Linked DNA regions of Homo sapiens. The protein of the gene in region 1 interacts with the protein of each later gene in a biochemical or structural test. Each region holds a gene or a part of one and is shown on either strand. Other genes may lie near its edges.

Region 1 (15,583 bases):
AGAATTCTATTTATGTGCCTTAAGCATAGTCATTCCGATTTGCAGAAAATAGTCATGTCCCAGATTTATTACTTATGTGTAGCTGTAATTTGTGAGCTGAAAATATGCTTGAAAATCTGTGATTCCTGAACAGTGGGTATTAATAGAAATTTATTTCACTATTGGTGTTAACTTTCGACAACAGGAGGATAATCGAGGCAGATATTTAGAAATGAAATATATCATAAAATATTAAGTTATTTATATTTAAATATGACAAATAATCCTTTATGCATTGAAAATTTGGGAAGTCTAAAAAGAAAAAGAAAAGCAATCAAGTCCTATCACTGGAGATAATTACTGCTATGATGGTGATGTATTTTCTTCTCATCTTTTTTGTCTGCTCATACATGTGAATGTTTTCACAAGGTTGTTGTGATCACATTACGATACAGTATTGTATCTCCACTATCTTTCTTTCTATTTCATTCACCCTTCCTGGAGTTGAGGCAGGAGAATAGGGTCTTGAGGCAGGGAACCTAAGGCTGATTCATGCTGACTTCCTAGAACTAAATTGAAAGGAAAACCTCAACTTTCCATGCCTAAGTAACAAAAGGACCAGAGGCTACTCCCTTTGTAACCTCCACCACCCCACCGCCCCTAGCCTTTTCTGCGTGGCAGAAACATCTGCAACCAATCAAACGTTTGCATAGGAGTGTAACTTTTGTAACTTCACTTCGGCCTCTCATTGGTTGCAGCAAGCAAAAGCAACCAATCAGACTGATTGCGGGCCACTACTTTATTTGCATGGGATGAATACCAAGTGGCCAGTGGGAAACCTCTAGGCAGTATTTGGACCCCAGAAGATTCTGTAACCAGGGCCCTTGAGCCACTGCTCAGCCAGGTCCCACCCTGTGGAGCACTTTCATTTTCAATAAATCTCTGCTTTTGTTACTTCATTCTTTCTCTGCTTTGCTGTGCATTTTGTCCAATTCTTTGTTCAAAAAGCCAAGAACCTGGACAACTTGTAGTCAAACCTTCTACTGGTAACAGTGTCACTAAATATTTTTCAAAAGCAAGATTTTTAAATAGCTGTATAATGTTGTAATGTGGCAGTACAATTATTATTTAGTCTTTCTCCTGCTATTAGAGTCAGCATTCATTCAGCAATTTAAGTACTATTGGGTGTGCTAGCAGATAAAGGTTTATTGATTATTGAAGATAATCCTTTTCTCAGGCATCACAGGTTGTAGGGGTAGGGACTGAACATTGAACTTCATATGGTATGGCTGTCTTAGGGGTACAGGCAGGGAGCTGTCAGCTTATAACTGGTCATTTAAACCACGAGGAAGTGAAGATGGCATTGCTCAGGGAAACAGGTAGGAAGCTAAGAGAAAAAGACTGAAGGTGGCACCCTGAGGAACACTCAATTGCATTGAACTTGAGATGCACTCAAATCTCTAGATCCCCATTTCCAAACATACATCTCCACTCATTTTTGTATGGACTTACTCAAAAAATTCAAAAACAGCCATTCTTCCTCTTGCCACCACATCCCTCACCCCTGAGATGCCAAGAACATGGAGCTTAAAAATTAGAGTGGTGGTCAGAGACGCCCCTGGGAGGAGGGCAAGGCTGGAAGCAAAGCCCATTCTGTGTGGCTTGTTCATCTTCCTTTCCCTTACATCATTGTCAGGTAGTCTGAGTTGTAATTGGATCATTAAACTTGTTCTGGGATTCCTTCTAAACTGCATGTGTCTGGCACATTTGCCCCACCTGCACAACCAGGAGCCCACCTGTCTAAGCACTGACTCCCCCTAACTCATGCTCCCCCTGTGCTCTCTTCTCTGCTGGAACCATCCTGAGCTGGGTCCCCACTCTCCTTCCACTATAGTATGGTACTTTTTCATAGGGCAGCCATTGACCACTTTGGAAACTAGACGTTCTGCTCTTCAAGCCCTTTGCCCCCACAACTCTCAGGGCTTGTTCTAGGTGGAAGCAGGAAAAGATGGGCATGCTAGTCCAGGACCCTCTATAGAAGGAATATCGGAGGGAAGCACAGGGTAAATCCATGGAGGCCCAGCCATGGAGGAGGAAATGATAGTCATAGGAAATGCCAAATGTCAGAGTGAGATTCAAGACATATTTGTTATTAATCAATTATGCAATGGTGTGATTGCATAAATAATGTGATTTTAGTTGGTTGTTTATTTGGGATGGAAATGTAGTCAGAAATTATTAAGTTGGTTATTGTGTCCCAGTACGCAATCTTTGAGTCAAATGACATTTGATTAGAAAATGTTCTTTCTTGTCTTACATTAAAGCTCTTTCCAGGGGCCTCAACAGGGGATAAAATATTGTGTTTTCTCAGAAATCTAGCAAATCAGAAGGTGAATGTTCATGATTATGATCTCTAAAGGAAAAGAAATTCTCTAATACAAGGTTTTGTTAAGCACAATGTTCACATAAGACATTTGAGGGAGAACCCCTTAAAAATAAGAGTTTAGGGCCAGGCACGGTGGCTCATGCCTGTAATCCTAGCACTTTGGGAGGCTGACGCGAAAGGTCAGAAGTTTGAGACCAGCCTGGCCAACATGGTGAAACCTCATCTCTACTAAAAATACAAAACTTAGCCAGGCATGGTCACGGGTGCCTGTAATCCCAGCTACTCAGGAGGCTGAGGTGGGAGAACCGCCTGAACCCAGGAGGTGGAGGCTGCAGTGAGCCGAGATCGCGCCACTGCACTCCAGCCTGGTGACAGAGCAAGACTCTGTCTCAAAAAGAAAAAAAAAAAAAAGAAAGAAAAAGAAAAATGAGAGATTATAATACCACAATGGATTCTTCACACAGATTATGCTATCCCTTGTTTGAAGATTTTCCAACATATGGCAAATTCTCTTTGTTTTTGGTCTTAACTGAGATTGGAAAAACTGAACTTAGTGTCATTTGAGGGAATTATTATAATGCAGTGTTTCTCAAACTTGGCTGTACATTATAATCACCTGGGGAGCTTTTATAAATCCCAGCTGTCCAGACCACACCATGGGCCAATTAAACTTTTCGGGTGCGACCCAGGTGTTTACCATGTGCAAAGAAGTTTGAAAATGACTAAAATAGGTAACTCTGAAGTCAAACTGCCTGGCTTCAAATTCCAGGCCAGCCACTTCCTAGCCATGTGACCCTGGGCAAGATATTTGATTTCTATGAATTCTATCAGAAAAAAAGACAATAAAAATAACATATTTTTGTAGGATTGCTATGAGGTTTAAACAAGATAATCTATGTAAATTATTTATTAATTTGCTGCAAAAGTAATCACGGTTTTGCCATTAAAAGTGATGGCAAACACTGCGAATCCTTTTCACCAACCTAACACAATGGGGCAGGCATATGTGAATTCCATAGGCTGGGCACAGTGGCTCACACCAGCACTTTGGGAGGCCAAGGGGTGGGGAGGAATGTGAACAATTTTCACAAGTTCAAGACCAGCCTAGGCAACATAGTGAGACCTCCTCTCTACAAAAAAATTAAAAAATTAGCCTAGTGTGATGGTGCATGCCTGTAGTCCCAGCTACTGAAGTGGGAGGATTGCTTGAGCCTGGGAGATGGAGGCTGCAGTGAGCTGTGATCGTGCCCCTGCACTCCAGCCTGGGTGACAGAGTGAGACTTTGTCTTAAAAAACAAAAAAATGAAGTTCTATGGTAATTATTATTAACTAACAGCTTTCTTATTTCATATTAATTACTCTGCAAGACACTTCCAGCATGGTTGCCCCATCTGACACTCATTCACCTCGTTGATTTTTTTTTGTTGTTGTTGTTGTTCTATAACATTCATTCATGCACAAATTCATTTTACAAGTATGTATTCATCTAACATTGACTTAACTATGAGTATGACAGAAGACACAAAAGAAATGTACACATCTGCCTCACCTCCCTTGGAGTTTATCTTCTCTAGTGTGTTCGTGTTTTCCGGTTCAGATCATAAGCATCATGAGCTAAGGGACCATGTTTTATGCCCGGACAGCCGTAGCACCCGGCGCTGCGGATTGGAGACACTGCTAGGCACCCGGGCTGGAAGATTGGGTTCTAGTTCTTGTTTTGCCGCTTACAGGCTGGGTGACAGGGAGCAATCCTGTTGTCCTCAATAGGTGTGTTTCCTCATCTGAAAGTGTACACAATCCATCCATGACTGCTGTGACGATTACAGGTCTACACAACGCGCATGTGGATTTGTCTTGCAAACGTCCACCATCAGGCCCTCAGGAAACAGTGCCGCGCGTGCCCACCAAGGGGCAGCAGATCGCAGTGCAGAGGCCCGCGGCGCTCGACGTCAGGGCGCACGTCCCACCCCGTGACCATGACTGTGACCGTGACCGAGAGCGTCGCTGGGGCACGGCCAGGCGGCGCGGCGGGAGTGCACAGGACGCGCCATGGCGGCCGAAGCCTCGGAGAGCGGGCCAGCGCTGCATGAGCTCATGCGCGAGGCGGAGATCAGCCTGCTCGAGTGCAAGGTGTGCTTTGAGAAGTTTGGCCACCGGCAGCAGCGGCGCCCGCGCAACCTGTCCTGCGGCCACGTGGTCTGCCTGGCCTGCGTGGCCGCCCTGGCGCACCCGCGCACTCTGGCCCTCGAGTGCCCATTCTGCAGGCGAGCTTGCCGGGGCTGCGACACCAGCGACTGCCTGCCGGTGCTGCACCTCATAGAGCTCCTGGGCTCAGCGCTTCGCCAGTCCCCGGCCGCCCATCGCGCCGCCCCCAGCGCCCCCGGAGCCCTCACCTGCCACCACACCTTCGGCGGCTGGGGGACCCTGGTCAACCCCACCGGACTGGCGCTTTGTCCCAAGACGGGGCGTGTCGTGGTGGTGCACGACGGCAGGAGGCGTGTCAAGATTTTTGACTCAGGGGGAGGATGCGCGCATCAGTTTGGAGAGAAGGGGGACGCTGCCCAAGACATTAGGTACCCTGTGGATGTCACCATCACCAACGACTGCCATGTGGTTGTCACTGACGCCGGCGATCGCTCCATCAAAGTGTTTGATTTTTTTGGCCAGATCAAGCTTGTCATTGGAGGCCAATTCTCCTTACCTTGGGGTGTGGAGACCACCCCTCAGAATGGGATTGTGGTAACTGATGCGGAGGCAGGGTCCCTGCACCTCCTGGACGTCGACTTCGCGGAAGGGGTCCTTCGGAGAACTGAAAGGTTGCAAGCTCATCTGTGCAATCCCCGAGGGGTGGCAGTGTCTTGGCTCACCGGGGCCATTGCGGTCCTGGAGCACCCCCTGGCCCTGGGGACTGGGGTTTGCAGCACCAGGGTGAAAGTGTTTAGCTCAAGTATGCAGCTTGTCGGCCAAGTGGATACCTTTGGGCTGAGCCTCTACTTTCCCTCCAAAATAACTGCCTCCGCTGTGACCTTTGATCACCAGGGAAATGTGATTGTTGCAGATACATCTGGTCCAGCTATCCTTTGCTTAGGAAAACCTGAGGAGTTTCCAGTACCGAAGCCCATGGTCACTCATGGTCTTTCGCATCCTGTGGCTCTTACCTTCACCAAGGAGAATTCTCTTCTTGTGCTGGACACAGCATCTCATTCTATAAAAGTCTATAAAGTTGACTGGGGGTGATGGGCTGGGGTGGGTCCCTGGAATCAGAAGCACTAGTGCTGCCATTAATGAATTGTTTAACCCTGGATAAGTCACTTAAACTCATCTATCCAGGCAGGGATAATTAAAACCATCTGGCAGACTTACAAAGCTTGGGACAGTTATTGGAGATTAATCTACCATTTATTGAATGCATACTCTGTGCAAGGAAATTTGCAAATATTAGCTTATTTAATCTGTACTATCCAGTGAGGTAATTTCTTCCCCCCCAAGATAGAGTCAAGCTCTGTCACCCAGGCTGGAGTGCAGAAGCATGATCACAGCTCACTACAGTTTCAACGTCCCCCGCTCAGGTGGTCCTTCCACCTCAGCCTCCCAAGTAGCTGGGACCACAAGTGTGCATTACCACACTCAGCTAATTTTTGTATTTTGGCAGAGATGGGGTTTCACCATGTTGCCCAGGCTGGTCTCAAACTCCTGAGTTCAAGCAATCCACCTTCCTCGGCCTCCCAAAGTACTAGGAGTACAGGCATAGCCACTTGCTCAGCCATAATTTTTATTATTAATCTCATTGTACAAGTGAGAAAACTGAGACCCAGAGAGCTTAAGTGACTTCCTCGAGGTCATAGTTACTTACTGCCTTAGTCCCAATTTGAATTCAATTCTGATTCCAAATAAGTTGCGCTTAAATAAGACAACAGATGTGGGAAAAATATGTGAATGTGTAGTGTTGCTATGTGTACTGTCTTTACAAGTAGCTAATTATTTTAGCACAAAGATGTGCAAAGAAAGGAGACTTTATGGAGAGTTCAGGAGAAAAAGGATTTTGTGGTGGCCATCACTTTCATTCAATTTGCGACTGCTCTGATGGCACATTAGATGAAGTTACTGTTGATCCTGAGTTACGTGAATAAGAAAAACAATTGAACTGCTTATTAAAAAAGTAAACATGTCTTTTAACGCCTATATCTTCTCCACTATACAAACTCAGAAAATACCACTTGGTTGTTTGAGAAAGGCCTATATTTGTGTAAGTTCTAAACTATTGCAGAACACACTACATACTAGCGTCAAAGGGCTGATGACGCTCCTGTTACATGTTTATGGGGTTTTTTCGTTTGTTTGTTTGCTTTTAGACATGGTCTTGCTCTGTTGCCCAGGCTGGAGTGCAGTGGATTGATCACTGCTCACTGCAGCCTCGACTCCCTGGGCTCAAGCGATCCTCCTGCGTCAGCATCCTGAGTAGCTGGGACTACAGGTGTGTCACCATGCCCAGCTAATTTTTAAATTTTTCGTAGGGATGGGATCTTGTTTTTGTTGCCCAAACTGGTTTCAAGCTCCTGGGCTCAAGAGAGCCTCCTGCCTTGGCCTCCCAAAGCATTGGGACTATAGGTATGAGCCACTGTGCCTCGCCCACGTAAAGTAAAAGCGAGAGCCTAACTCCCATGCCAGTCCACAAAAACCCATTTTCTTGTCAATGCTCTCATCATATAGCACTAATAGTAAGATTTGGGGCACCCTAGACCACGATTTATAAATGCATTTTAAAAAGAAGTTCTATGGACAAACCTCTTCTCCCCACATGCACACACTCCACCCTTAAAGTCACCCCTAGGCTGGTAACTTCACGGGTATTCTGAAAACATAACAAGAAACGTTGTTGCAGGTGGAGATACGAATTCAGACTTATTTGGTCATTTGTGAGTACAGCAACTGAGGATAGATCTTAGACCATTTTCCTTAGGAACAATGACATTTTAATGATTTTAGAATTAGTAGAGCCAATTCAAAAGATTTTTCTCTTTGGAATTATTAATGGCATCATCTCTGACTATAAAGCTGGACATGTGTCCTTTACAGACAGCAGTCATGATAGAGGTGTGGAATATGCAACACAGGGAGGTATGTGAGCAAGGTAGTATTGCTGGTCATCGTGTGGATTACCCAACGTCAAGAATCAGGTGCGCATCTGTGAGATGATGAGGGAGTGTATCAGACCTGTGATAACAAGCCACCTTAGTAACTGCTATCTTTCCGTGGTAGATTATCAGGCTTGGGACTGGGGTGGGGCTGGATACACAACATAAAAAGAACTGTATAAAGCAGCTCTTCCCAGGAATGTCATAAGACAGGAGCAGAGTTTCCTTGAGGAAGACATGAAGCTTGCTGTTCTTGATTCTCAAGCACACATGCGCTGAGGGAATAGTTTCAATGACCTGTAAGGCAGATGCAAAATTCATCTTCCGGACTGTGTTCTTTTTTTTTTTTTTTTTTTTTTTTTTTTTGAGACCGAGTCTGGCTCTGTTGCTCAGGTTGCAGTACAATGGTGTGATCTCAGCTCACTGCAACCTCCACCTCCCGGGTTCAAGCTATTCTCCTGCTTCAGCCTCCGCATTAGCTGGGATTACAGGCGCCCACCACCACGCCCAGCTAATTTTTGTATTTTTAGTAGAGACGAAGTTTCACCATGTTGGCCAGACTGGTCTCGAACTCCTGACCTCAAGTGATCCACCTACATCGGCCTCCCAAAGTATTGGGATTACAGACATGAGCCACTGTGCCCAGACAGACTGTTCTTTAAAGCAAGCTGGTTAAAAGGCTTGAGATATGTCATGCTGAACTCCAGGTTATTAAAGAAATTGGAGAATTCTGAGACAGGCAGGAAAAAATAACCCCAGCAGAAAGTAAAAGCTTCCAAGTTGATGAAGAAGGGTTGGAATGACTCTCAGAGGTTGAAACAAAAGAACCTGCCCAGGAGTAAAGGGAGAAGGAGAAGGAAATAGGCTCTTCCAGAATATCCCCCATGCCCTGCCTGGTGAGTCCATAAAAGCAAACACAGACACTTTGGCTCCTGTGTCAGCAGTTCTCACGTCACCCTCCATCTGTTCCAATTTTGCCCAATTCCCGATCCTTGGACTGTCTCCTGCTTTTGACCTTGTTCTGCCTTCTGGACTTGCCGCCTGGACTTGGCTTTCTCAATCTCTTTCCTTGGCATTTTGTAAAAAACTTGGTTCACACTCATAAATCTCCCCTCTACCAAATCTAGCTCTGGACCCCAGGACCCAAACCATCACCATTTTGCTAGTGCTTTATGCAGAAGATATCTTCCCTGGCCCCCGACTAAGTGGGGTGCAGACCCCACCTGAAGTGAATTATGAACCTTCTGAGGAAGAAGCATTAACCTGTGCACCTCAGAAAAATGAGGAAGAACCACTGATGATAGCAAATTTAATAATCCTTACACCTGCCTTATTAAGAAGAAATATATACTGGCGTTAGTGTTCCACTATAGAGATATGCTATGGTGGTGTATCATGGCTAGTCAGGAGATGAACTGTTTTCTTGGAGAATGTGTAGCAAATATGATAGGGTGGCCAGAGACTCACCACAACTACTGTACTGAATAACCATGGTGTCTTCTGTGCCCACAGCCACTTCTAAGAAAAACTGTCCCATCATAAGCCAGCCGTCAGCAGCCAGGTTTTCTATTACATGATCCCCTCGGACCATAGCTACTTAGATAGGGGTGCACACCTAACAGAAGGACACTCAATCAACCAATGATGCTCCACCAGATGTATTAATTAGACCAGGAAACTGGCTTCCTTTCAAGGAGCACAGAGATCCAATTACATTCTGGTCCTTGATTTTTTTTTTTTTTTTTAGATGGAGTTTTGCTCTTGTTGCCCAGGCTGGAGTACAATGGCGTGATCTCGGCTCACTGCAACCTCCGCCTCCCAGGTTCAAGTGATTCTCCTGCCTTAGCCTCTGAGTAGCTGGGATTACAGGGCATGTACCACCACGCCTGGCTAATTTTGTATTTTTAGTAGAGACAAGTTTTCTCCATGTTGATCAGGCTGGTCTTGAACTCCCGATCTCAGGTGATCTGCCCGCCTCGGCCCCCCAAAATGATGGGATTACAACCATGAGCCACCGCGCCCAGCCATCCTTGATATTTTGAATTGAGAAATACGGAGCATGTTAAGCTGATGGCAGCCTGGGGAATGCCAGAAATATGCTCAGTTACAGGGTTGCAGAGAGTCCTTGTGGGCAAGCCACATCACGAATGACAAGCTATGAGGCAAAGGGAACACAAAACTCACGGGAATCCAGGTAAGAATGAGAGGAAGAAATGCATCCAGAAAAGCAGTGGCTTGGAGCCATGTTACCTCCAGGGCACCAGCATGATGATCCCTACTGCAAGATCCCTGGAGCTGCCCTGACTCCACTTTGCCTCTCTGCAAGGCCCAGCTGCCTATGGTTTCTATTCTTGGAGTCCTAACAACTCTCTCCTATCCCATGAGAATTCTTATACTAAATGTTCCACTGCTTCAGCTAACCTGCACAAATCTCTGTGGTTTTTTTTGTTTCTTTTTTTGCAACAGAAAGTTTGGTCAGGCATGGTGGCTCACACCTGTAATCCCAGCACTCTGGGAGGCTGAGGTGGGTGGATCACCTGAGGTCAGGAGTTCGAGACCAGCCTGACCTACATGGTGAAACCCCGTCTCTACTAAAAATAAAAAAAATTAGCATGGTAGCAGGCACCTGTAATCTCAGCTACTCGGGAGGCTGAGGCAGGAGAATCGCTTGAACCTGGGAGGTGAAGTTTGCAGTGAGCCGAGATGGCGCCACTGCACTCCAGCCTGGGTGACACAGCGAGACTCCATCTCAAAAAAAAAGAGTCGTAATATTTTGATGATTGGTTTGGAGAAAATTGGTCTTAAATATACGGATTTTGATGCCATGAGTAGGAAACAAATTCTGTGGGGAGGAACACTCTCCCATTAACTCATCAATCCCTAATACCGGTAGGGTATGAGACCAAAGAACAAGTAGAGGCTTACATACCACAGGTCTAAATATTTAAGACTTATAAATCAAGCCAACAAACTTAAATAAAATACATTTGATCCTCCTACCTTGACAAAGGTAAATGTAAATATTAAAAATATACCCTTTTTTTTGGCCAAGATTGGTGGTACACGCCTGTAATCCCAGCACTTTGGGAAGCCGAGGCAGGAGGATTGCTTGAGCTCAGGAGTTCCAGACCAGCCTGGGCAACATGGTGAAATCCCATCTCTATTTAAATATTTATAAAAAATTATATATAGATAGATATTTTTTAAGAGGCAAGGTTTCACTCTGTCACCCAGGCTGGAGTGCATGGTGTGATCATAACTCACTGCAGCCTCGACCCCTGGGCTCAAGCCATCCTCCCTCCTCAGCCTCCCAGTAGCTAGGGCTGTAAGTACATACCACCACACTGGGCAAATTTTTAATTTTTTTTTATGGAGTCTCACTATGTTTCCCAGGCTGGTCTCAAACTCCTGGGCTCAAGTGGTCCTCCATCCTTGGCCTCCCAAAATAAGCTACCATGCTCACCCTACAAATATACTTTCATTATGATCTGGAAGGCCAGGTTTCAGTTTAGAATAGTTGAATGGAATTTTTGCTCGATTTTGGGATGCGACATTTTAAGAAAGATCATGACGACCTGGAGCATGTTTAAAAGATATGAAGAAGAATCAAAAGCAAAAGCATCGGGGTTTTTTGTTTTTGTTTTTGTTTTGCTTTGTTTTTGTCAGCTTCTAGCTATCTAGAATGTAAACTCCATGAAAGATGTTTGTGTTGTTCCTAAGTGTATCCCTAGTGTCTAGAGCGGTGTTTGACACATTGTAGGCGTTCAAAAATATTTGCTGAATTAACGTGTTTTTCCCAAGGAATTTTTCTAGACTATGTATTTCTTTCATTGATAAAAGGGAAGTGGTATAGGTAGCTGGGTAGCTTGGAGAAGCTGGTCTAGAATTAAAGTGGTTTGTGGTGGGTTTGTGGAGTGACTCAAAGAGTTACAAAGGATTATGGTGACTTTGTGGTAGTCTGGGTTGAAATTGCATGAAAAACTTCATGTTCTCAACCACCACATTTTCCATTTTCACCTAAGTACATGGGACTTTGCGGTATTAAGGTTGCCTGGTCTTCATGAGTCACATCCTTTGTCAAATGATGAAGAGTGGAGAAAACACTGATCTGCAAGCTCTCCAATATCAGGTGATATCAGTGATGCCAACTCCATCTGGAGGGAAGAGAATGAACTAAAAGTGTTCCTGGATCACTCACCTGATGGTGTGCTTGGAGTGTTGTCAAACTCATCTTTGGGTTAAATCTGGTCAATAATGGGTGCATAAAGAAGCTTCTGCCTTTCCCAGGAGCCATCTATACAGCATGCACAGCCCAACCACAGACATTTGTTCACTAATAGGCTGCAAATTATAATATACAGTATACCCATTATGGAAATTAAAAAGCAGTTCATATTTTTTCTGCAAAAATAATGATATTATTTATAGGAGCTTAATTTCCTGACAAAGGACTTTGGTCAAATCAATCACTGGCTTCACTAACAATGTCATAAAAGTACCTACACTGCAAATCTGAAATTACTTATAAAATGATCAGATAAAATTGTGTGTCAAGCCGTAGAGTTTTAGGACTGAAAAGAAACTTAGACATATTTTTATTATGATGCCCTCAAATGACAACCGAAGCCTACGTATGTAAAAAGACTAGTCTAGGTCACACAGGTAGTTAAGAGCAGAACCAGGACTAGAAAAATGGACCTTTCCATATTCCAAATTAACCTCTCTAGTGGGAAAAGATCTAAAAGCCAGAGGCTTGGAATAAACACACATACACACACACAGACACACACACACACACACACACACACGCTGACGCTTGATATTTTACTTGCCCCCCACATCCCAACTAGTCCCCCCTACTACCCTTCCCAGCCTCTTATGACCATCTTTCTGTTCTCTATCTTCATGAGTTCAATTTTTAAAGTTTTTAGCTCCCACAGGTACGTGAGAATATGCAATGTTTGACTTTTGTGCCTAGCTTATTTCAGTTAACATAGTGATCTCCAGTTCCATCCATGTTATTGCAAATGACAGGATCTCATTCTTTTTTATGGCTGAATGGTACTCCATTGTGAATATGTACCACATTGTCTTTATCCATTCATCTGTAGACAGACACTTAGGTTCCTTCCAAATTTTAGCTATTATGTATAGTGCTGCAATAGACACGAGAGTGCAGATATCTCTTTGATATACTGATTTCCGTTTTGGGGTGTATATACCTAGGAGTGGGATTGCTGGATGGTATGGTAGCTCTATTTTTAGTTTTCTTATTTATTATTATTTTTTGAGATGGAGTCTGGCTCTGTTGCCCAGGCTGGAATGCCGTGGTGCGATCTCAGCTTATCGCAACCTCTGCCTCCCAGGTTCAAGCAATTCTTCTACCTCAGCCTCCCTAGTATCTGGGATTACAGGCATGCACCAGCGTGCCTGGCTAATTTTTGTATTTTTAGTAGAGATGGGGTTTCACCATATTGATCAGGCTGGTCTCAAACTCCTGACCTCGTGATCTGCCTGCCTCAGCCTCCCAAAGTGTTGGAATTACAGGCGTGAGCCACTGCACCCGGGCCCTTTCTTTAGTTTTCTAAGGAAGCTCCAAACTGTTCTCCATAGCAGTTGCACTAATTTACCTTCCCACCAACACTGCATGAGGGTTCCTTTTTCTCTACATCCTCTCCAGCCGTTTTAACTGGGGCGAGATGATCTCTTATTGTAGTTTTGATTTGCATTTCTCTGATGATCAATGATATTGAGCACCTTTTCACATACCTGTTTGCCATTTGTATATCTTCTTTTGAGAAATCAGATCTTCTGCCTATTTTCAGATCTTTTGCCCATTTTTAGATCAGATTATTAGATTGTTTTTCCTGTGGAGTTGTTTGAGCTCCTTATATATTCTGGTTGTTAATCCTTTGTCAGATGAGAAGTTTGCAAATATTTTCCTTCATTCTGTGGGTCGTCTCTTCACTTCGTTGATTGTTTCCTTTGCTGGGCAAAAGCTTTCTAACTTGATGTGATCCCATTTGTCCATTTTTGCTTTGGTTGCTGGTGCCTGTGGGGTATTACTCAAGAAGTCTTTGCCCAGTCCAACAACCTGGAGAGTTTTCTCAATGTTTTCTTATAGCAGCTTCCTAGTTTGAAGTCTTAGATTTAAGTCTTTAATCCATTTTGATTTGATTTTTGTATATGGTGAGAGATAGGGGTCTAGTTTCATTCTTCTGCATATGGATATCCAGTTTTCCTGGCATCATTTATTGAAGAGACTGTTCTTTCCCCAATGTATGTTCTTGGAACCTTTGTTGGAAATGAGTTCACTGTAGGTGTATGTATTTATTTTTGGGTTCTCTATTACGTTCCACTGGTCTGTGGATCTGTTTTTATGCCAGTACCATGCTGTTTTGGTTACTATAGCTCTGTAGTATAAATTGAAGTCAGGTAATGTGATTCCTCCAGTTTTGTTCTTTTTGGCTGGGATACTTTTGGCTATTCTGAGTCTTTTGTGGTTCCATATATACATCTTAGTGTTTCTTTTCCAGATGGCATCCAGGTTTGTATGCATGCGGGCCCAAGAGAACACTAGTATTTCCAAGTTAACCAATAAGACCATAATCATGAGGCCAGAGTTTTTACTTATTGCATAAATAGGGCCTAATCAGTCCAACATCCTAAGGCTCAGCCCCTACAGGGGTCAGATAACTTCATTCATGGCCATCAAATGTATTCCAGCAGTGCCTGTCCTTGTAATAGAAAGAGGCCTTTGGTTACAAGGAGTGTGGTTAAAGAATTTAAACATAATTAACATTTTTGTAATACTCATACATTGTTTCACAAAGCCGTTAATTTATTTGATCCTCACATTTCTTGAAGTAGACAGGGCAGGTTTTATTAAGCTGACTTTACAGGAGAAGAAGCTGAGATCCACAGGGATGGAGTGACTTGCCCAAGGTTACCCAACAAATGCCTGGTGCTTTAGGTTGGAGGAGGGCAGCTATTTTTAAAAATCTCTCCCAAGTAAATCTATTTTACAGCCAGGGTTCGGTAGCACTGCTCTAGAGAATAAACAAATATGTCAACTATCCCTTCGCGGGATTTATAGTTATCATTTGTATCAATCCCTAGGTAATGTTCTTTGGGAAGAAATATTGACATCCTTCTTATTTCAGAACTTCAACTCATAAAGTAGGCTGAATCCTGTCAATATCTGAGTGTCACAGGATCCACACAATGGTCCCTACTTAGAGGTACTGTGGAGAGATAACTATTTACATGACAAGAGCAAGGGTCTCAGGGGAAGACTTGGCGATGGGGGTCAGGTTCTGCTATTTCCCTTAAACCAAACGTCTTTGTTGTTTTTTTTTTAATGAAATATTCTTATTTTCATAAATCTGTGAATGTAATTCTTTGGCTCTCTGGCACACAGTGCTCTGCAGCTCTCTGATCTGATGCCAGTGTTGTGTAGGGCTTAACCCACAAGGTGAGGAGGAACTTTAAGAGCCATGTGCCCACCAGGCATAGAGGCTCACGCCTGTAATCCTAGCACTTTGGGAGGCCAAGGCAGGCAGATTGCTTGAGCTCAGAAGTTTGAGACCAACCTGGCCAACATGGTGAAACCTTGTCTCTACTAAAAATACAAAAATTAGAGGAGCGTGGTGGCAGACACCTGTAATCCCAGCTACTCTGGAGGCTGAGGCAGGAGAATTGCTTGAACCTGGGAGACAGAAGTTGCAGTGAGCTGAGATCGCGCCACTGTACTCCAGCCTGGGCAACAGAGTGAGACTCCGTCTCAAAAAAAAAAAAAAAAAAAAGCCATGTGCTAAATGGCAGAAGCCTAGCCTGTAAGAGGACATTCTTTCCAAACACTGTAACCCCAGAGTTTTCTTCCATTTTTCTCTCTTATGTGCCTTTGACTTGGGAGTCATTTCTTTGGAATTTTCCTCCTGAATTATCCCCCTGAAGAGAAGTAACACCTGCTCTTTGTGGAATTGGAAAATGCAGATAAGCATGCAGACATTTAATCACTTTTAATTAGACAAAACTGTTACCATTTTTGAAGTGAGTTCTCTCATCACTATGAAATTCGTAT
Region 2 (16,105 bases), on another chromosome or scaffold:
GGAAAAGCTGGTTCGAAGGCTATTACAATTCAAGTGAGGGATGATGAGTGACAAGGGAGTGGAGAAGGAGACATCGATTTTCGGAAGTAGTAAGAAGGTCAAAGCAGGTAGGACTTGGTGATTGATTAAATATGGAGGTGAAGAAGACAGAAGTGTCCAACAAGATGTTCATGCTTAGATCCTACTTTAATATCTATGAATGAAGCAGCTAACTACTCAGATAAGGTATACACATGAGGTTAGGTCCTGGCTTGGAAGCCTGACCCAATTACTTAATAATTGTGAACCTTCTATAGTCATTCAGCCTTATCAGGTCTCAGTTTCCCCTTTTGTAAGATGAAATCAGAGGAGTGGCTTCACAGAGTTTTAATGAAGATTAAATAAAGGCTATGAAGGCAATTGTAAAGTTGAAAGAGGTAATCACGTGTAAATGTTATTGCTCATGTGTTGCCACTGTGATTTTGACCAATTGGATCTTGCATTTCTGTTTGTAGTTTGCGAAATAATAACTTCTTCCAGTATCAACTATGAAGAAGACTAAATTTTGTAAATAGCATTAAAACTTTGAATTTGGGGGTGGGACAGAGTAGAAGCAAGATAAGATAAAGTGATACCTAATCATCTTTTGCCCTGTTTTAAGCAATAGTCCTCTGTTCTTCTTCATCTTCTTTTTTTTTTTTTTTTGATATGAAGTCCCGCTCTTGTCCCCCAGGCTGGAGTGTGATGGCATGATCACGGCTCACTGCAACCTCCACCTTCTGGGTTCAAGCAATTCTCCTGTCTTAGCCTCCTGAGTAGCTGGGATTACAGGCACCTGCCACCATGCCCAGCTAATTTTTGTGTTTTTAGTAGAGACGGGGTTTCACCATGTTGGCCGTGCTGGTCTCGAACTCCTGACCTCAGGTGATCCACCCGCCTCCGACTTCCAAAGTGCTGGGATTACAGGCATGAGCCACCGCACCTGGCCCGTCTTCTTTTTAATTTAATAGCATTTAACTTAAAAAAAAAAACCATTAGATTGTAGTCATATTGTAGCAGTGATTATATCATAAAATATGTAAAAGGACTGAGCAGTGGTAGATTCATAGTTTGTTCTTAACATTAATTTTCTTTCTTCTTTCTTCAGAAAGAAAAATTTATTTTAATCACCAGTGGTTTGAGCTCCAAATTTCTGTAACAAAGAAAACTCAACAATGTATATAGGAAAGCAAGACCTAATGCTTTTTTGCTCAACATCATCACTTTTGATTATTGGAAGTTTTTTTTTTTTTTTTTGACAGGGGAAGTAACAGCATTTTGAAGTTTTTTGTCTTCTTATCAGTGGCTCTCAAATAATTGCCAGTTTTACTAAGTGACTTAAGAGTTTAATAGTTGTTCATTTAAAAAATTAATACCTTGCTAATAGACAGCAATAAGACCTGGAGAAAGTTGGCTTTAAAATGTGTTTTTCATGGACACATAGAGGGAAACAATAGACACTGGGGCCTACCAGAGGGTGGAGGGTGGGAGGAGGGAGAGGATCAGGAAAAATAACTAATGGGTACTAGGCTTAATACCTGGGTGATGAAATAATCTGTATGACAACTCCCTGTGACATGAGTTTACCTATATAATAAACCTGCACATGTACCCCTGACCTTAAAAAATGTGTTTTTAAAACTGTGGCTAACATTCTAGAGAATTTACTACACTTCAGACAAAATATTAAAGCCCTAGTAAAAATAGTTGACTCAGTAGGATCTGGAAAATTGTTAATCCTCTCCAACTTTCCCCAGTTGGAACTTTCAACCACTTACCAGCCATTTAGCAGCTAAACAGAAACAGTTCTCTGATAGACACAAAGCTCTGACTTCGACCAGATCTGCTTTTTCTCCTCATGGTTAAAGGAGAAAATACAGCATTCTGGCTTAAAAGAAAGGAACAAAGAGTTCTGAACATCTTGTGGAGCGAGTAGTTATTAACAGTTATGTCCAGAGTTAGGAAAAAGTTGATGTGATATGTTTGTGTGTGTGTGTGTGTGAGTGAGGGGAGTGGACTCGTAGAGGAGGAGAGGTTTAATTTTGTCATATGAGAAAGAAAGTGTTATGGTACCTTACAAATAGGGGACTTGTTTTCAGTCTGGACTCCTCTGCCAAAGGGTCTTCAAAACCCCTCCAATAGCTAAGTTCACAGCTGAGTCCAGAAACCAGATACAGAGCTAAAAAATAGACTATTCAGGACAATATGAATCTGGTGAGTAAATAGTGGCCTAGGTAGGCAGAGAGCCTCTGCATCTCATAGGCTATTGGATTTTCAAGTAAAAATACAGATTGCAAAGTCAGGATATAAAGATTTAGTAAAAAAAAAAACTAGAGGTGCACATCCCTGCCCAGATAGAGCAATGAGAACACACACAAAGCATCCAGGCCCACCCAGTGCTGACACATCCCATCAGCTGTACCCATGAAGAGTTTTCTCCTGCTTCTTAGAAAGGAGGAACTTGAGATAGGAAAGAATGTGTACTTAAGAGTATACATTAGGCTGGGCGTGGTGGCTCACACCTGTAATCCCAGCACTTTGGGAGGACAAGGCAGGCAGATCACTTGAGGTCAGGAGTTTGAGATCAGCCTGGCTAACGTGGTAAAACCCCATCTCCTCTAAAAATACAAAAATTAGCTGGGTGTGGTTGCACACACCTGTAATCCTAGCTACTCTGGAAGCTGAGGCACGAGAATCGCTTGAACCCAGGAGGCGGAGGTTCTAGTGAGCCGAGATCACATCACTGCACTCCAGCCTGGGAGACAGAGTGAGACTCCGTCTCCAAAAAAAAAAAAAAAAAGAGTATATTTAATACATTGTCTCAGTGAGTTTTTTCTCACTGAGTAATTGCCCCAGTACTTTTCTCTATCCCGTAAGTCCTAAGTTAGTTAAAAAGAAAACTCTCGGCTAGGCGTGGTGGCTCACGCCTGTAATCCCAGCACTTTGGGAGGCCGAGGCGGGCGGATCACCAGGTCAGGAGATGGAGACCATCCTGGCTAACATGGTGAAACCCTGCCTCTACTAAAAATACAAAAAAATTAGCCAGGCGTGGTGGCGGGCACCTGTAGTCCCAGCTACTCGGGAGGCTGAGGCAGGAGAATGGCATGAACCCAGGAGGCGGATCTTGCAGTGAGCCGAGATCGCGTCACTGCACTCCAGCCTGGGCGACAGAGCGAGACTCTGTCTAAAAAAAAAAGAAAAGAAAACTCTCTAAGTCACCCAAATTACAGCGTGCAGGACAGTTGAACCAGGCCAGCCATCCTTTTGCAGAATTCCCTCTTGAGGTGCTTTATTCATACATGTTGCTGTGCCATCAAAGCACAGTAGTCCCCCTCCACAGAGGTGTGAATAAAATAATTTCTTCCATACATCCTCCCAATCCTCCCACCCCACCCTATATGTCTAGCCAGCTGCCCTTTTATTGAATAAGCCGTTCTTCAGCGCCTCTTATGAGAATTACCCACTGTATCATATATATGAAATTCTGATATGTAAGTAGTCTATTTTATGAACTCTTTCATCTCACTGATCTGTTTCTTTACACACACACCAATTCCAGTTTATTTTTTAAACTTTAACTTTATAACAAATTTAAGCTGACTGGGCTAGTATCTCATTTTTCTTTTCAAAAATACTTTTTCTTCTTATTTTGATTTTTCTGATGTTGAAGTTTCCTATGAATTTCCGTACATTTTGGCTAGTTTCTAATTCTCCCCCTGAACAAGTCATCTCTTTCCCATCTTCCATACACTCACATTAAAGCCTTTTAAAATGCCCTTCAGTAGGTGTTTTAATAATGTCTGCATGGATTATTTCTAACTTACTTGTTTATTCACCCTAATCTTCCGATGAATACAGAGAAACTGCAGCAACTTGATGGAACTATCGACACAAAAGGATGGTACCTCCCCCACAGTCAGATTGTTATTTTATTCTCTGCTTATTTCATTTTGTAGTACTTAGATCTCTAATTTTGTTCATGATAATCCAGCAGATTTAAAAAAATTTTTACACTTAAGATTCTCTCTCTTGGCCTGGCACAGTGGCTCAAGCCTATATAATCCTAGCACTTTGGGAGGCCAATGTGGACAGATCACTTGAGGCCAGGAGTTGGAGACCAGTCTGGCCAACACGGTGAAACCCCGTCTCTACTAAAAATACAAAAATTAGCCGGGCGTCATGGCGCATGCCTGTCATCTCAGCTACTTGGGAAGCTGAGGCAGGAGAATCACTTGAATCTGGGAGGCGGAGGTTTGAGATAGTGCTGCTGTACTCCAGACTAGGCAACAGGTGAGAGTCTGCCTAGAAAAAAAAACCTCTCTCCTTTGACCTCTCCTCCTCATGCTCCCCAGCCAGAATCCTCACCTTTAGCCAAATTCTTCTCCTTGTAGTTACTCAATAAGTCCTGGTCCTCTTTGGCCATCCTGACCCCCAGAGGCTTCTCCTTTCTCTAAAGTCCTGAAGCATGTGTAGCAAATGTGTGTAATATTCACATGATCCATTTGCCACTAAGTCAACCTGATACAGTTATATCATTCTTTTTTTTCATCCGCCCTCCCCTCTCCTTTTCCTCACCTCACCTGAGATACCTACATGTTTCAGGCGGCATCCTGCACTTTCTTTTCTTTTCTTTTTTTTTTTTTTTGAGAGGGAGTCTCACTCTGTCACCCAGGCTGGAGTGCAGTGGCGCGATCTCGGTTCACTGCAACCTCCGCCTCCTGGGTTCAAGTGATTCTCATGCCTCAGCCTCCCGAGTAGCTGGGATTACAGGTGCCCAGCACCACTCCCAGCTAATTTTTTTATTTTTTAGTAGAGAAGGGGTTTGACTATGTTGGCCAGGCTGGTCTTGAACTGCTGACCTCAAATGATCCACCCACGTTGGCCTCCCAAGTGCTGGGATTACAGGTGTGAGCCACCTCACCCAGGCCTGCACTTTCTTTAACCCCTTATTTTGCTAACACTTATGCTTTTCCACCACACCTAGACCATTGTCTGCTCTTACTGGACTATTTTACAAATGGGGTTTGAGGTAAAAACTAAAAAATTTCCAGTAGTGAAAATTATACTTGAAAATCCCTTTAGTGCAAACGGAATGGCTGGTAGCATAGTCTACTTGGCAACAAGCAGATTTGTTAGTCCTTTCACTTCCCCACTTGCCTCTGGGAATATGCCCTTTGAGTGGAACGGTGGGTGGCTGGCACCGTTTCAATGGTGATCTTATTTGCTCTCTTATTTGCTGAGCCACAAAGTTGTATTCTAGTCATCTAAATGCCCTAAAGATGATAGCACATCATATTTAAGTTCTTCCCATTTTCCTGGCCTTCCCAATTCCCGCTACCTCCTTGAAGCTTCCACAGATATTCCACAGCGAGCCTTCTCCTTTCGGGATCTCTTTGGCCTTCGGAGCTGCTTTTTGGTCTTGGTAGCTACCAGTGTGGTGCTTGTCTTTTTCAGAGCAACTCACATACTAGGAGCGTGGATTCTAGAGGGGCTTGAAACCTGATCCTGTCACCTACTAGCTGTGTGATCTTGGACAATTGGCACCTTCGATGTCTTCACGTTCCTCATCTGTGAAATGGGTTTCTACCTCACCGGATTCTTATAAAGATTACATGAGTTAATATTTCTAAGTGCTTAAAACAGTGCCGAGCCCAAAGTAAGCAGTATATGTTTTTCAGGTTGTATCCTTTTACTTAATATTGGAGTTCCTGTTGAATGTAGCTAAAGAAGGAAGAAGAAAATAGTGTACAAGAGCGCTTACTATTAACTGAGACAAATGAATTGGCACCTTTTTTGTTCTCCAAAATGCAAAACCTGCTCCTTTTAATAATAATTAAAAAAAAAAAAAACCAGTTCGCAACTTCCCTGACTCTTTCACTGAAACTCCGTAAGTGATCTTCAAGATCACTTACGAGGTTTCTCTCAGTTACCACTAACTGTGGTTAAAGTACTGACATTTTTATATTAATAACTATGAGGCTGAATTCTCAAGTACTTTCTTGATTAGGCACTGAAAAAAGACAAGCTTGCAGAAAATGAGTTGGCAACTTGGCAACCCCCCAGGGTGTTTTTCCAAAGGCAGCTCTCAGGCAACGTGTTGAGTGAATGCTGTAAGAGACCCACTTGTGTAAGCCCCACAATTATCAGCTCCTTGCTTAGTAGCTTCTTAAAATGTCTGCTGGGTATTCTATGAATTTGTTTTTCTGTAATAATGATTGTAACCTCCTCAAGGTCAAAGGATTATGACTGCTCAGACTTTGTAACCCCTGGCATGGAGCTGGAACTACTGCATAGCTCAATAATTTCCTGCTGATAGATTGATTGTTAAGATGGGTAGGACCAAGCAATGTTTAGATGCTGCCAAACCACAGTGGGAGAAATCCTACGAATAATAGTACAACTCCCCACGATTCCTTTCTACTCTGTCTTCATTGGTGCAACCTACAACTAAGAACACTGATTCCATCCTAGTTTCTCTCATCCAATAATGAAGGGGAGCAAAAGCTGGGAAGGAGACAGAAGTGAAAAGCCTGGATCATCCAATTTAGAGGTTTATTGAGTGAGTGTTGAGTCCTTTTAGGAGAAAGCATGGTCTCCCTGAATCTTCCATTTGAAGGAGCTGAAAGGGAGAGTGACTTCTATGGCATTAGTCAACACCAGGGGGCAGGAGAGAAAGCTGTATGAATGGAACAGGCTGAAAGGGTGGTGTGAGTAAATGGCACAAGCATGTGAAAATTTCCACCACGGTTCTTGGCACCTAGCAGTACGCTATATGTGTTAGTTGAATCCCAGAGTTTTAACGCCCTTGAAAAATTATTTCTTAATTAGGTCGTGTATGTTCATTGTAGAAAAATTAAGAAAAACAACAGAGCAGCAAAACAACGAAGACATTTTTAATCACTCATAATCTCACCATTCCAAAATGAACTGTTCACATTTCTGTAGAGCACATTCTGTTTTCTATGCATGGATACCTTTCCCTCAAAATGCGATCACCATAAATTGTTATTCATGTTTCTCCATAGTTTTAACTGGTAATATTTACTATTTAGCTCAACATATAATCATGGGTAGAGGAAAAGAATACCCAGGGTTCTAGTTTTGGCTCAGACCTAGCCAGCCCCTGGCAAGCAGCTTGACCTGTCTAAGCTTTCAGTTCCTCATCTGTGAAATAAAGAGTTTGATGCCTATCACCTCCTACCTCCATAATTCTAACCATTGATGGGTCATTAAAATAAGACAATATGGTGCAGCGGTTATTGCTCTGGTATCAGCCAGGCTCTAATCCCTGCTCTACCTGTGAGAACCTGGGCAGGTTTTTTTTTTGTTTTTTGTTTTCGAGATAGAGTCTCGCTCTGTTGCCCAGGCTGGAGTGCAGTGGTGCAATCTCAGCTCACTGCAACCTCCGCCTCCCGGGTTCAAGCGATTCTCCTGCCTCAGCCTCCAGAGTAGCTGAGAGTACAGGTGTGCACCACCATGCCCGGCTAATTTTTGTATTTTTAGTAGAGATAGGGTTTCACCATGTTGGCCAGGCTGGTCTTGAACTCCTGGCCTCAAGTGATCCACTGGGCAGATTTCCTGACCATTCAGTGTCTCCGTTTTCTTTTCTCTAAAATGGGATTAATAATTGGACATATCACATAGGGTTGTTGTGAGGATTGAATTGATAGCACATAGTGTTTGGCACAGAGTAAAGGCTCAACAAGCAGCAGCTATTCTCAATATTTTAGCTCAGGCACCAGGCGCCTTGAGGTGATAGAGTAAAAACTCTAGCTGAGAGATCAAGTAGAAACTTGGGAACTAGCCCGGGTGGAACACAGGCACTGGGCATCGTGCTGAGTCTGTTCATTGGCACCATCTTACTTCATCTTCAGAACGTTACTATCTCTGTTTTACACATGAGGAAACTGAGGTTAGAACTTGCCTAGATTCGTGTAGCTAGTAAGTGTCAATCCAAAGACCTTCCAGCTAGTTTTGGTTGAGCTAAAGGGGCTAGAAGACCTGCCATTAGTTAGATATTTCATTTCAAAAATAAAACCCAGGCATGAAGTCCCTTTCCCAGTGATATTCAGTGTGATTTTTTTCTTCACTCTAATAATTTTAACAATTCCACTGTTTGACAGTTGTTTAAAAGACATAGGAATTTTTGTATATTTTAATTGACTAATGGATAGCTCAATTAGGGGAGCAAAACTAGGATGTGGGTTTTATAAAAATAATTTAGACTTGACTTAGACATTTAATTTTACAGTTGTAAATGATGGTCTAAAAATTCTTCAAACTAATCAAAATAATGAAACTTCAGCGAAAGTGAGTGGCTCAGAAGGCCCATGAAACATACGGCGTGATTTTTTAAATTTTATTTTAACATTTTGATTTCCACACCACTGCCAAAGGACGTCAGAATTGAGTAAGGGGTTTGGGTTGACTGCTGCCTCTTGACCGGCTGTATGTGTGAAAAGGGTCATTTCACTTCCGGCTTTAGTGTTCCCCGCAGGGGAGAAAATTGAAGAATAGACAGAAATACGAAGTGTCTTTTAATTAAATGCCACCTTGGTGTTTTATGGGGCTCGTATGCTTTCCTAACAACATTTGTTAGATAAGTTGGTAATTCCCGGCAGCTGTCTACTGTGTGGTGCATCTGTGAACTCATACTAATCGAAAAGCATGCAGCCAGTTTGGGATCGCGCAGGCTAAGGTGAGGGAGAAATGCGGATACACCGGGTAATGAACGATATAAACATTTCAAATGCGATACACATTCGGTTTGAGCCACATCTTCTGTGTGCAGATTCACCCGCAGTGACCCACAAAGCTATTCCCAAGTAACAGCCGCCCCAAGCCTGAGGCACTGGCGCCCCGCCTGGGCGAGGCTGGCTGCGCTCTCTCTTGGCCGGCGCCCGCTGCATGCGGTACGTGCCTGCCCGGCCCCTAGCCCAGGGTTCCCGTTACGCGGCTGGTTCCAGCTGGCCGCGGAGTCCCAGAACCTCCCCGCGATGCCCAGATAGCTCTCTGCACGTCTCGCCCCGGGGCGATCACGTTGCCGGGGCGAGGGCTGGCGCCCCAGCTGGGCGCTGGTTGGTCGCGCCCTGGGGCTCGAGGCCCGGCGATTGGTCCCAGGGATCGGGTCACGTGCTTGGGAGCAGATAAGCGGCCTCTAGGCGCCGGGCCCTCAGTCTCTCCCAGCGACCGCCGCGGGGGCAAGGCCTGGAGCTGTGGTTCGAATTTGTGCAGGCAGCGGGTGCTGGCTTTTAGGGTCCGCCGCCTCTCTGCCTAATGAGCTGCACCAGGTAGGTTCGCTGCAACTCTGCGCGCTAGGAACACAGGGGAACGCGCAGCTGTGGGGAAGTTGGGGGGCGTTTCAGTTCTATCATCTCTGGAAATGGACACCCCAGGGGGAGGACAAGTGGACTGACTGCGTAGTTGAATCTGGCAACCGAGAGGCCTTGGAGGTGTAGAAATTTGGCTCTATTTCTTAAGCAGAGCCTATTTTAGTAATCAGCATCTTAAAGCAGAAATTATCTTAACGTGAATCAGCTTGAGTTAGGATTTTCTCATGGATGCGGCTGTTCTTTTGGTCCTGCACAAATGTCCCAAAGACTCGGGCAGCTGAAGTGGTGAGAACAGCACTCTGACATTGCTGGTTAGGTGGTTTAGCTTGGAGGAAAAAAATTACAGGACGACGTTTGCATTCATTCGTCCTTCTTATCACAGTTTGCCATAGCAAAATCTCAAGAGTTTGAGCAAACGATTACTTTTAACTCTTGTCCAGGACTTAAAGTTCCAAGGAAATCACCCAAACTAAAACTGTCTTTCTATAAATGCAAAAAGTAAAAAAAAAAAAACAAAAAAACCAAAAAAAACCTCCCATAAAACTACTTTAAATAGCTTCTCCAGACATAGCTTAGCAGAAGACTTCTCTAAAAATCCTGCCTATTAACTATTATTAGACCCACAAATATAGCTTTAGCTTTCATTTGTTTGTTCTAAGTTTGCAGATCTCCCAGAAAAACCCCAGAGCTAACACAGTAAATTCTGCGAGTGTTATTACACACTTTTGTGATAATGACCACTTGCATACATGTTTAGAGCTGCTGTGAGGAGAGTTACTAAAGCCAGACTGAGAAATGTCGTGTACAGTATACACACACCTCTTACTTGTAAGGCTAAGATAGGGAAAAAAATCTTAATACCATAAGCTTGGAAATATATGATGAGGGCTAAAGGTCAGAGAAAAGTCTTCTTTATAGATGCTTCTTGGTTTAATATTGCTGAGCATAGTCATGTTTAAAACTTTAAATGGTTTTATTGTCTTTCTACTTATAAATGTCTATTAGAAAATGCCAAAAAAGAACAAAAACGAAAATAGATAATCTATAATCCTATCACCCAGAAATAATAATTATTAAATTATTAGGAAAGGTGTATTTCCTATAGAGTTTTTCAATATTTATAAGTTTGTATATATAAAATGTATATTTTAAAACACTCCAACTTTCAGGTAATCAGTTTTTCCACTTAAATGTGGACTTGTCATGGGCATCTCTTTAGGTGAATTATCAATTATATAGTTTTTAAGTGCATATGAATTGTTGGCTTGTATTTCAGTGGTTATTTGTGAAAAATAAGAGCATGATAATCAAAGTGCAAAGATGATTCTTTGACTTCTTCTCTAGCCTTCTCACTCTCAAAACTGTTGCATGTTATTTTTTTTTTTTCAAGTGAATTACCTTACCAGAGAAGTGTCAATCAATTTAGCAGCAAAATAAGCCAACGTAGCCAGAGGGAGCAGAGGGTCTGGAACTGTGGCTCCTGAACCTGTCTGGTCATTAGAATCACCTGGGAAGCTTTAAGAACATACCCATCCCTTGGCCCTAGCCCCAGAAGTTCTGCCTCAGTAGTTCTGAGTCCCAGGAATTGGAAAGAAAGAAGAAAGAGAAAGAGAGAGAGAGAGGAAGAAAGGAAGGAAGGAGGGAAGGAGGAAAGGAGGAAAGACAAGAAAGAAAGAAAATGAATTCCCTAGACATAGTGACCAGACAGGTTTGAGGACCACTGGTCCAGAACAGAGCACACAGTTCTCAAGGCTGCCTTGGAGATAATCAAATCGAACCCTTTTATTTCTCAGATGGGGAAACTGAGACCCCCATCACCCTCTAAGTGTTTTAAGCAATTAATAGCCTTTAGCCGGCCAAGGGTAGAGGTAGACATAGAAGATCTGATCACTTAATACTGTTCTCTTTTACTACATATGATAGCACCTGCCTGATATCTAGTGCACTGGCTATAATTCAGTCAGCACAAAAATAGTACATATGTATTTGGCACTGGGGAAGAGCATTTCCGATCCAGGTGATAATCCCTCTTCTTTTTGCATTCCAGAATGATCCAGGTTTTAGATCCACGTCCTTTGACAAGTTCGGTCATGCCCGTGGATGTGGCCATGAGGCTTTGCTTGGCACATTCACCACCTGTGAAGAGTTTCCTGGGCCCGTACGATGAATTTCAACGACGACATTTTGTGAATAAATTAAAGCCCCTGAAATCATGTCTCAATATAAAACACAAAGCCAAATCACAGAATGACTGGAAGTGCTCACACAACCAAGCCAAGAAGCGCGTTGTGTTTGCTGACTCCAAGGGCCTCTCTCTCACTGCGATCCATGTCTTCTCCGACCTCCCAGAAGAACCAGCGTGGGATCTGCAGTTTGATCTCTTGGACCTTAATGATATCTCCTCTGCCTTAAAACACCACGAGGAGAAAAACTTGATTTTAGATTTCCCTCAGCCTTCAACCGATTACTTAAGTTTCCGGAGCCACTTTCAGAAGAACTTTGTCTGTCTGGAGAACTGCTCGTTGCAAGAGCGAACAGTGACAGGGACTGTTAAAGTCAAAAATGTGAGTTTTGAGAAGAAAGTTCAGATCCGTATCACTTTCGATTCTTGGAAAAACTACACTGACGTAGACTGTGTCTATATGAAAAATGTGTATGGTGGCACAGATAGTGATACCTTCTCATTTGCCATTGACTTACCCCCTGTCATTCCAACTGAGCAGAAAATTGAGTTCTGCATTTCTTACCATGCTAATGGGCAAGTCTTTTGGGACAACAATGATGGTCAGAATTATAGAATTGTTCATGTTCAATGGAAGCCTGATGGGGTGCAGACACAGATGGCACCCCAGGACTGTGCATTCCACCAGACGTCTCCTAAGACAGAGTTAGAGTCAACAATCTTTGGCAGTCCGAGGCTGGCTAGTGGGCTCTTCCCAGAGTGGCAGAGCTGGGGGAGAATGGAGAACTTGGCCTCTTATCGATGAATTAAGCAACAATGTAACTGGTCTTGACTTGTCATATTCCCCCATGCAATCCTAGGTCTGTATTGCTCAATTTTAGGAAGCCTTTGCTACTCCATCAGTAGGTTTAGATTTGAGCTTTTGAGACCTGGCTATGGAAAAGAAAGACACTTGAGAATTTAGTGTTGGGGTCTGTACAGATGATGCTACCCAATTTGGCTTTGAAGGATCAAGTAACAGGTTGAAAACTATTTTTATAAAGGTAATACTTTTTCAGTTCCCTTCTTCCTTCCCTCTCAATCCACTAGCTTTCATGTTGGGCAAGGAAAAGTTGAGGAAGGATGGCTGATGGTGATGGAAAGCTGTGTTAATGGTATGAGGAATGTGTGAAAAGTATACACAAAGGGCTCTGAAGCTCAAGTCAGAGGAGTGGGAGGTCTGATCATTGTTGGTGGAAAAACGTAAGGTTATTTTGTGTTTTTAAGTTGGTTTTACAATTCTTTCCTGGGGAAATTATTTCTGGAGGGGAAAAAGATCCATTCTACGTATCCTTGTGGAGAAAAGCTAAATAACCTTTAAGAATGTGGGTGGTATTGGAGAAAGAAGATGAATTATAGCTCCGGAGAATCAAGATCTTAAGTGAAGCCTTTCTGTTCAGATGTGATCTATAAAAAATCATAATTTGGGGAAAGTTTAAGCAAATCTGGCTTTGTAGTCCTGATGTTATAAGTGACTTTGTGATCAAACTGTCAGGCTTGGGTTCTTGTTATAGAATGCTTGGTATAGAAAAACCATGCCATCATTAATGGCTAACAACACGTAGGGACTTCATGTCATGTCAAAGATAGCTCTTTGCAAGTGCCTTGATTAAACCAGAAAACTGTCATCGTTTAACCCAAATATCTGAATGGTCATCTGGTAACTCATGGGTTTTTGGCCTCATAAGATGGTCCACTCTGTACACAGGCATTCCTCCTGCAATAATGTTGTATCTTTGAGACCGTTGTCAGTGTACACAACTCACATCCTTCATATTGAAGGTGACTCATTTTTCTGCACACTTTTTTGATGTGATGCTTGACGTGAGGCCCGACACTAGGATTCTCAATGCAAGAATCCAGTACCTTGCACATAGAAGTAGCAACCCATCCCTTGCCTATTTTCATCTTGCTGTTTTCTTTTTTTTAAAAAAATGGATGTGACTTGTTTTGAATGTTTTGTATTATACTTGTTTTTGTGTGTGCATAAATTCATTCTGTAGGATCTTAAGAAAAAGAGTCCCAGAATGTTGCTTCTATTATTGTGCACAACCATTGAGAGGTGTTACAAGAATGCAGTTAATTTTAACATGTGTGATGTGCCATGGTGGAAAAGTACTATCGGAATAACTCTGCAGTGACAGAATTTGAAGTTTGGCTAGCATCCATACTTTTCTACTGTAAATATTTCACTCTCCTCTAGCTATCCTTGATGAGCTTCTCACTTTAAGAATAAATGTGTTTGATATAAGGCCTGAGTATATTTTCTTTCTCAAAGCCACAGTCAAATAAGAAACTCAACTGACATTCTCATTTTTCATTTAGGAACAACTGAGCAGAGTTAGTATGGACCAAGACATGGATCCATCTGAGGATATTCACAAGGCCCCAGTCTCAATAGTGAGCACACTTCCTACCACCTGACCATTGGGGCTGGAGAGCAGGGTCAATAACTTGAGCTGTTGCTACTACTTCTTCCCCTACCCTGACTGTCCTCATCTATGGTTTCTGCTCACACACACACAATCTGCTGGGTCAGGGTTATGTTGGAGGCCATGTCTCAGCTTTAAAATGGGGAAGGAGTTGGTGTGGGAAAGGTTGGAGTGGCTGCTACGTCTTGAGCTACAGCACGTTCCTGAACGGGCAGAACTTCCAGCTGCACAGAGGGGCATAGGGAAGGGGCAGTAGGCGCCAGTCCTGGACTGAAGGGAGCAGCACTGCTCCTTGGGGTGAGAGGCAGCAGGTCCATGAACCTAAGTTGTTGCTCCAGTTCTGCCTAAAATCTGCACAGTGTATCTAAAGAAAGATCTGCACAGTGTTGACCAATCTACTAAAAAGGCCCAATTATGAAGAATAAACTTTTATCATATCATAGAATCCTCTATGTCAGAGCTGTAAACCACAGGCCTGCAGGCTGTATCTGGGCACAGATGTATTTTATTTGACACGGGATTTTTAAAGAATTTATTGCCATGATATAACCATCAGCAGACTACATTAAAAAATCTGGGTTTACTTTTTTTCCTAAAAAAATTGTAAGGTCTCCCCACATGGCAACAAATACATGAAGTTGAATAGTAGCTGTGCCCCTTAGATGGGGCATGCATCCTAGATGGGTCAAACTGCCTTGTTTTGGCCACAGTCTCTACCCATGCCTTCACTCTCTCACACTATCTGCCGAGCTCTGTAAGAGCTGGAATTTACAGCCCCTATTTTGTTTCCTCTCTATTTATGCTGATGGTTTGGTGGACTGCCCTGTTCCCAAGGGATGGAGAAAAATCAAACTTGGGTCTGACAGGGACCTCGAAGACCATGGGGCTCAAGTGCCTAACTTTATAAAAGAAGAAACTAAGATCCAGATAGGTGAAGTGACTTGTTCAAGGTAGTGTGGCCAGGGTGAGCCAGCTGAACAGTGACTTGTCACTTAGTGTCCCTCCCTCTGCTTCACACAGCCTCCTTGAAATCTCCCATGGAGTTGCCCCTTCTCCCGCAGCCCCCTTCTTACAGGAGAGCTATTTTCAGGCAGGCATGACCAGCTTGACCCAATTTTGGGGTGACCCTGGGCAGCTGATGAGGGAGGAGCTGGTCAAAGAGCAGGGTGTTCCTGGAGCTTTACTATCAAATAGAATTAACTGCATTTCACATCCTGATATCTCGCCTAATAGTAGAAGCAACTTTGCTTTTAAAAATTTAACATGAGAGAATAACTTAAATTTGGAATGCATGATATTCTGTTCCAAAAAATATTAAGTTTAATTTAGTTATTTAAGGAAGGACTATTTTTTTTCTCTCTACATTGATGGCTCTCCTTTTAGTTCATCCCCAGACTGAAAGGCTGGAAAACTCTAGGGTGGCAGTGAACTGTGCATCTTTATCAATGTGAATCCAAAAGTTCTGCACAAGTTTGAGTGACCCTTCAAGCTGCAAAGGGAGAATCTCTTCCTCAGCTTTCATCTCTAGGTTCCTCATAGAGTTTTTTGGCAGCTACTGGGAGCTGTCATCTGAACAAACCCTCTCATTAGTGGGGAAGGATCCCAAACTCAGAGCAGTCCATGTGCACCGTTGCTGACTCCTGGCCTTGACTTTTCCCTCTTTTTGACAATGAGTGGACACCCATTCCTGGATTTGGATGGTCCCTCTAAGCCAGTGGTCCTTAACTTTGCCTGCATATCAGATTTAACTGGTAAGCTTTACAAAATACTGATGCCTCCCCCTGAACCTCATAAGATTTGGATTTAATTGGTCCAAGTCGTGCCCTGTGCATTGGACAGTTCTAAAAACTTTCCAGATGTTTCCAATATGCATCAAGTTTGAGGACCTCTGATTTAAGCTGTGTGAAGTGTTTTCAACTGTCCCGATTCAGAGAACAGAGTCATGTAATGGCTCAGAGGATTCCTCCACCCACTTACACACACACACACACACACACACACACACACACACACACAAAATAAAAATTAAAAATAAAATTAAAAATTAAAGATTAAAAATAAAAAAACCAAAAACCAACCAGACGGTGAAATAGAGGTCCATA

What was found.
Region 2: of the proteins of NHLRC1 (region 1) and PPP1R3C, one has a biochemical effect on the other in vitro, tested with the Homo sapiens proteins (one study listed by BioGRID).

The regions. Positions count from the first base shown.
Region 1 is NC_000006.12:18,111,438-18,127,020, reverse strand, and holds NHLRC1 (E3 ubiquitin-protein ligase NHLRC1), read left to right. Parts: upstream 1-4,343; 5' UTR 4,344-4,414; coding exon 4,415-5,602; 3' UTR 5,603-6,581; downstream 6,582-15,583. UniProt on the Homo sapiens protein: E3 ubiquitin-protein ligase. Together with the phosphatase EPM2A/laforin, appears to be involved in the clearance of toxic polyglucosan and protein aggregates via multiple pathways.
Region 2 is NC_000010.11:91,626,159-91,642,263, reverse strand, and holds PPP1R3C (protein phosphatase 1 regulatory subunit 3C), read left to right. Parts: upstream 1-9,192; 5' UTR 9,193-9,294; coding exon 9,295-9,308; intron 9,309-11,397; coding exon 11,398-12,337; 3' UTR 12,338-13,822; downstream 13,823-16,105.